Homo sapiens: one gene and its partner. The protein of the gene in region 1 purifies or fractionates together with the protein of each later gene. This does not show direct contact. Each region holds a gene or a part of one and is shown on either strand. Other genes may lie near its edges. The genes, in order: ESYT2 and SLC25A17.

Region 1 (3,823 bases):
CCTCCCGAATAGCTGGGACTACAGGCGCACACCACCACACCCAGTTAATTTTTGTATTTTTAGTAGAGACTGGGTTTCACCATGTTGGCCAGGATGGTCTCGATCTCTTGACCTCGTGATCCACCCGCCTCAGCCTCCTAAAGTGCTGGGATTACAGGTGTGAGCCACTGCGCCCAGCCTGAAATTCTTTAAAAAAAAAAAAAATACAAAAGTAATTTAGCCAAAGATTCTTTTCAAGTTTTTAATCTGTGTGACTTAAACTGATGAACTGTGGTGTTCACCTCATGAAGAATTTATATTTTCTCCAGAATGTTTTACTTGTTTATTCCAAATTTGTACTTGAGCTCATAATCCCACATGTGTAAACTTCAGTGTGCCTAGGATGCTTAAGACGCTTCTTGAAGGATTCACATGAAACTTGACAGTGATTATGTTGACAGTTTTAGAGAGATTTTAAAAATATCTTTTAAATTATACTTATGTATCTATTTTGTGATATTTATTAAAAGTGTAATATACTTTATTTTCATAATAAAACCAGCAGGTTGCATGGTCTCGAAGTGTGCCTGAAATTCTGCTGCGCGGCAGGGGTGGTGGGGGTGGTCAAAGCACATCAATAATAGAAGAAACTATGAATAAGAAAAGTTAAGATTTCAGTATTACTTGCACTTTGGGTTTGTTTTTGTTTTTTTTTTTTTCTAGAGATGAGTTCTTACCGCGTTGTCCAGGCTGGTCTCAAACTTTTGGCCTCGAGGCATCCTCCCACTTAGACTTCCTAAAGTGTGGGGATTACAGGTGTGAGCCACCATGCCTGGCCAATATTACTAGTACCTTGATTTTTACCATACATACATTGGTGCTTGGGGTTTCTGAACTTTGGACTGGTATTTTGCCTTGAACAAGATGTATCTGTACATCCCAAAGGCTGTACTTGTTTTCATAGTGTGTCGTTGACAACCGTGAATTCATGGCAGAGTGGAAACATAGGAAAACATGAATTAAGGAGATACTAATTTCCTCACCTCACCTTTGTATATATTCACTGACAGCTTTTCTTCTTACTGAGTAAAAACTGAAGCTGGATATGGAAATGAGATAAGAGTATTAATACTTTGAGAAACTATATGTACTGTTCCTGATTGAGGCTATTAGGATGTGACAGATGGCTCTCACTTAACTGTGATAATTCTGTAAGTTTGGTCCTACAGCTTTAATATAAACAGTGTTGTTATTCTTCACTTCTTTTCCCATGAACAGTTATGTTCCAACTGCTTAGGGGAAAGGCCTGGCAGGCTGGATGAATTGAGGACAGGGCTTTTTGTTGTTTAAGTGTCTACCCTGTGGTAATGGGCCCTGGACCATTAGACTACCCTGGGTGAAGAAGAGAAGATTTATTTATTTATTATTTCATTTATTTATTTATTTTTGAGACGGAGTCTCACTCTGTTGCCCAGGATGAAGGGCAGTGGCATGGTCTCGGCTCACCGCAACCTCTGCCTCCCGGGTTTAAGCGACTCTCCTGCCTCAGCCTCCCAAGTAGCTGGGAGTACAGGCGCCCGTCACCACGTCTGGCTAATTTTTGTGTTTTTAGTAGAGACAGGGTTTCACCATGTTGGCCAGGCTGGTCTCAAACTCCTGACCTCAGGTGATCCACCAGCCTTGGCCTCCCAAAGTGCTGGGATTACAGGCATGAACCACCGCGCCCAGCCTTTTTTGTTTTTTAAAGAGAGGCGGTTCTCGCTGTGTTCCCCAGGCTTGAACTCTTGGGCTCAACTCTTGGGCTCAAGCGAACCACCTACGTGAGTCTCCCAAGTAGCTGGGATTACAGTTGCATGCCACCATGCTCAGGGCTGTGAGGAAGATTCTTGAAGAGTTTTTATAGAGATTAATAAGGGCAATTTTTCATTACTATTTTTATTTATTTGAAAATATTATCTCTTCATAGGATAAAGTCTGACTCTATCCTGCTTTTACTATTGCCAATAAATGCTGATTGTATGGCTGCTATGGATAATACTGTCACGGATAATACTACTTAACTGTTCTGACAGTTGGTCTTTTATTACCCTCATACTTGGATTATTGAGAATTAAAGCATATTAGCTTCCTTGGTTATGTTGTTCTGTACTTTTGTATACAAACTTTCTCTGGGGAGAGCTTTCTTCCCATTGCCCTTCTGGGAAGTTCAGGAAAATTTAACTCTAGCAAAAATATGGTATGTATAGTCTAAGAACTAAATGAACAGAAGAAAATAATGCACTGTGATCTCATGTAAAGAAAGGGCAAATATTTTTTTATTCTCAGTGTTAATCATTGACTTAATACTTTAATAAAATATTGTGAAGACTTGTAACTGAAAATAGTTGGCATAGCTAATTCAGGAGCCACAATTTAGCTATTTTAAACAAGTGCTTCTTCAGCACCTGAATCCGAGTGGTCATGTGGTTGAGGAAGTGTTGGAGTCCTCATCGTAGCTGCAGATAGGATGAGGATGCTGCTTGGGTTTCTTGTTCACACCCACACTGCGGCTGAGACACAGAAGGGAAAGGATGTGACCGTTGTTGCTTCAGTTCTGTGGTCTGAGAACCTCCTTCAGTTAGAACATTAATGCCCCAAGATGGCTAAAAATAAAGCAGTAAATATCAGGTTTTTAGTTTAAGCTAAAAAATAGATTTAAATTTAGGATATATGCAATCCATCAGCCTGTATGTTGTGGATTTAGTAAAATTTCTACTTAAGATTAATATTATTATCATTCTACATTTAAGGATGGGAGGGTATAGAGCTAGGACTGAAATATAAATAGTTTATATGGATATATACACTTAAAACATAATATATTTTATAAGTACGTATTCATAAATGTAAACTTCCATCCTGTGAAGATCAGTTATGGAATAGTGTTATTGTTAGACCTAATGAACCTATGATCGTTTCTGTAGGCTTTCATGATTTCCACATTGGTCACAGCCTTTAACCTTGAAGTAGACATTCTGAATATACTAAAAACCATCAAACTGTTTACTTTAAATGAGTGCATTGACGAGTATGTGAATTATGTCTCAATAGCACTGTTAAAAAATATAGACATCAGGGCTGGGTGCGGTGGCTCACACCTGTAATCTCTGCTCTTTGGGAGGCCAAGGCAGGTGGATCACGAGGTCAGGAGATTGAGACCATCCTGGCTAACACGGTGAGACCCCGTCTCTACTAAAAATACAAAAAATTAGCCGGGCGTGGCGGTGTGCGCCTGTAGTCCCAGCTACTCGGGAGGCTGAGGCAGGAGAATGGCATGAAACTGGGAGGCGGAGCTTGCAGTGAGCCGAGATCGCACCACTGCACTCCAGCCTGGGCGACAGAGCCACAGTCCGTCTCTAAAAAAAAAAAAATCCAATGTCTTTTTTTTTTTTTTTTTTTTTTTTTTTGAGACAGAGTCTCACTCTGTCGCCCAGGCTGGGGCACAGTGGCACCATCTCGGGTCACTGCAACCTCCGCCTCGCTGGTTCAAGCAATTCTCCTGCCTCAGCCTCCCAAGTATCTGGGACTACAGGCGCACACCGCCACATCCAGCTAATTTCTTTTGTATTATAGTGCAGACAGGGTTTCACCATGTTGCCCAGGCTGGTCTTGAACTCCTAAGCTCAGGCAATCCGCCTGCCTCAGCCTCCCAAAGTGCTAGGATTACAGGCGTGAGCCACCATGCCTGGCCTGAATTTCTTTTAATAATGGATGAAAAGGTGGTCAGTTATAGTGCAAAGTGAGGTACACCTTTGCTTACGGAATTCTAGCTAAAACTGTAAAAGTTTTTAAGGAATATTGTTCT
Region 2 (3,823 bases), on another chromosome or scaffold:
TTTTTACCCATACTTATACGCATGTAATACCTTCCTAGTGGTACATCTTAATCAATATATATTTTTTAAATCTTGATTTTTAAATGAATCTTTTTAGTGCTATGACATGATGGGCTTAATTTAACAGATGAAGCATGATATGGTAACTACATTGTACTGTTTAAACTAATTCACAGCTGTAGGAAAATGTTTGATTTTTGAAATATAACCAAGATGAGGCTGGACAATAATAAACACTGGGCCGGGCGTTGCGGCTCATGCCTATAATCCCAGCACTTTGGGAGGCCAACGCAGACAGATCACGAGGTCAGGAGTTCGAGACCAGCCTGACCAACATGGTGAAACTCCATATCTACTAAAAATACAAAAATTAGCCAGGCGTGGTGGTGTGCGCCTGTAATTCCAGCTACTCAGGAGGCTGAGGCAGCAGAATCACTTGAACCTGGGAGGCAGAGGTCACAGTGAGCCAAGATCACGCCACTGCACTCCAGCCTGGGAGAGAGAGCGAGACTCCATCTCAAAAACTTAAAATAAAATAAAATAAAAACAAAACAAAACACTGAAATACTGGAAGACAGTGAATGAATAAATAATATGATTTTTCATCAGTGGCCATTCATTATTTTGCTTTTAGAAACCTGGAAGAAATTATCTTCTTTGAGTTTCAAATGTTCTGGTAAATCTAGTCATTTCTTAGCTTCCTCAAAAATCACCTTGAATTGCTGAAATAAGTGACTCTCATGAATCAAAGTTCTTTTCTGGTCTGAGGTAGCCAACAACGGCCACACTCAGGATTTCCCCATAGAAGTGCTCTTTGAAGGTATGCATGGTATGTGTTTCCATGGACTTCTTCGTATTCTCATAGTATGGGTTCCATCCTATGCTCACCACCATCTTCTGACCATCTCTACTTCCAGCACTGGCCCAACCATAATAAATGCCACTGGATATATCGGCTGGCAGATTATCTACCACTTGCTCAGGAAAATTAGCTGTGGGGGATGCCCAGCTGCTTGTAGCCACGGCCGAAGCCCCATACCACTTGGTCCCGGCAGGAGTATGACAGATGCTTCGTAATGCAGTCTGCTCGAGGCATGGGCTGCAGCCCGGTCCCTGCGTCCTACAGAGACACCGTCCACGCGGTGCCCGGACCCCGGACCAGCCACGGGGTGGGAAGGGGCGTGAGCTCTGTCTGCCGCGGGGGTGCACCAGGGGCCCGACGATGCCGATGACACGCCACGGAGGATCCCTGATGCCAGCGACTCAGGAGCTGGGTCTCCCAACCATTTTCATTTTCTTTCTTTCCTTCTTTCCCTACCTTTTAAAATATTTTATGTTTGTTTGTTTATTTAGAGGTAGAGTTTCCCTCTTGTTGCCCAGGCTGGAGTGCAGTGGCATGATCTTGGCTCACTGCAACCTCTGCCTGCCAGGTTCAAACAATTCTCCTGCCTCAGTCTCCCAAGTAGGTGGAATTACAGGCACCTGCTACCACACCTGGCTAATTTTTTGTATTTTCAGTAAAGGTGGGGTTTCACCATGTAGGCTAGGCTGTTCTCGAACTCCTGACCTCAGGTGATACACCCGCCTCAGCCTCTCAAAGTGCTGGGATTACAGGCGTGAGCCACCGCGCCTGGTCTAAAATTTATTTTTTATAGAGATGGGGTCTTGCTATGTTGCCCAGGCTGGTCTCAAACTGCGGGCTCAAGTGATCCTCCTGCCTTGACCTCCCAAACTGCTGGGATTACAGGGGTGAGCCACCACACCTGGCCTTGGACCATTTTCTGACAAGACAACAGATGATGCTCACAGTCAACACAGACCCGTAGACTCTCCTATGTGTCAACTGTAATCCTACCCCCTTCTCACACACTCAAGAAAACACTTTAGGCTGGGCGCGGTGGCTCACGCCTGTAATCCCAGCACTTTGGGAGGCCGAGGCAGGCAGATCACCTGAGGTCAGGAGTTTGAGACCAGCCTGGCCAACATGGTGAAACCCTATCTTTACTAAAAATATAAAAAATTAGCTGGGCATGGTGGTGGGTGCCTGTAATCCCAGCTACTCAGGTGGCTGAGGTAGGAAAATTGCTTGAACCCAGGAGGTGGAGGTTGCAGCAATCCAAGATTATGCCACTGCACTCCAGCCTGGGCAACAGAGTGAGACACAATCTCAAAAAAAAAAAAAAAAAAAAAAGTGGAAGAGTGAACTTTAAAGTTAAAATACAACAATTAAGGTTAGTAGGCTATTTATTATATGTGTTACTTTAACTGACTTTTTAAAATTGAGCCCTGAAAAAAAAAAGAAAAAAATTGTTCATGAGCCCTGAAAAAAAAATTTTAGACAAGTGGAAAAAAGTAAAAAATGAAAGCTAACTGCCCTACTATACCAGTCCAGCTGTGTTAGGTATGGGGGAGTCTGCTGTAATCCTAAATTGCACTAAGAGTTAGAAAGATGAACAGGACAGAGAGAGTAACACAGGGGTGGTATATATCTGGTGGGTAATGGGATGGCAGACACAGCAAATAAACCGCTTTGGACAATTTAAAAAGCAAAAGATTTCAACATATAGTCCATGAATTAGAAGTTTCATGGAAAGTTATATGAGTTAGTCCCTGTAAGTTATAATCTTTCAAATGCAAATACATATAAACTAATCTAAAATGATTAAAATCAAAGTATTACAAATAACTGGTCTCAAGTATAGAAGATCCCACTAGATTGCCATTTGTTGTAATTTATGTAAAAAACAAGTCTTTTTCTGTACAGGAACTATTCTAATTTTTTTCCCCAAGTGAACAAATCTCAAACTTGAGTTCTTTGAGTCGTGATACTCTTTGAAAACTACTCTCCTAGAAAGGCTGCAAAACTGTGCAAAGTGGGTTCATGAGGAAGACCTCAAAGGGAAGATCAGACTATAGTGCAATAGTCCAGGTGAGCAATGATAAGGTTTGATTTGGGGAAATGGCTATGGATATGGAGAAGAGGAAATGGATCCAAGAGACAGTGAGGAGACAGACCAGTGGTTCTTGATGGCCAAGCAGATGTGGAGGGTGGGAAGGCACGAAGAGCCTGTGATGACTCCTAGACTTCTATCCTGAGTTATTTATCCAAAATTCAACTTCTCTCCCCTTCTCTCTAAGCACATGGCTGGTTCCTCTGGCCACCAGCCTCCATCCTGAAGCTATCTAGGAGCCCACCAATAGTAACTTTATTAGCCTAAACTCAGAGATAGTTCAAAGGGGCTCATTAGGAATAACAAAAGATACTACTACTCAGGAAATTCCAATGGTTTTAGGAACTGTGCCAGGAACCAGGGACAAAGGCCACATACATTTTTTATTATACCACATACAGACATCCTACAACTTCAGAGCAAAAAAATGTAATAACCTGATTAAAAAATAGACAAAGAACCAGAACAGACATTTCTGCAAAGATAATATACAAATGGCCAACAAACATATGAAAAGTGATGTTCAGCATCACTAATCATCAGAGAAATGCAAATCAAAGCCACAGTGAGATATCACCTCATACCCATTAGGATGGCTACTATCATAAAACAGAAAGTAAGTGTTAGTGAGGATGTGGAAATATGGGAACTTCTGTGTACTGTTGGTGGGATTATAAATGTTACAGTGTTATGGAAAACAGTATGGAGGTTCCCGAGAAAACTGAACAGAATTCCAAATGATCCAGCAATCCCACTTCTGGGTATATATCCAGAAGAATGGAAAGCAGGCTCTCAAAGAGAGAGCTACACATCCATTTTCATAGCACTATTCACAACAGCCAAAAGATGGAAGCAACTTAAGTGCCTATTAA

The links.
Region 2: the proteins of ESYT2 (region 1) and SLC25A17 fractionate together in Homo sapiens (co-fractionation; one large-scale study listed by BioGRID). This does not show direct contact.

What each region holds. Positions count from the first base shown.
Region 1 is NC_000007.14:158,822,897-158,826,719, reverse strand, and holds part of ESYT2 (extended synaptotagmin-2), read left to right. Parts: intron 1-3,823. UniProt on the Homo sapiens protein: Tethers the endoplasmic reticulum to the cell membrane and promotes the formation of appositions between the endoplasmic reticulum and the cell membrane. Binds glycerophospholipids in a barrel-like domain and may play a role in cellular lipid transport.
Region 2 is NC_000022.11:40,788,172-40,791,994, forward strand, and holds part of SLC25A17 (peroxisomal membrane protein PMP34), read right to left. Parts: intron 1-3,823.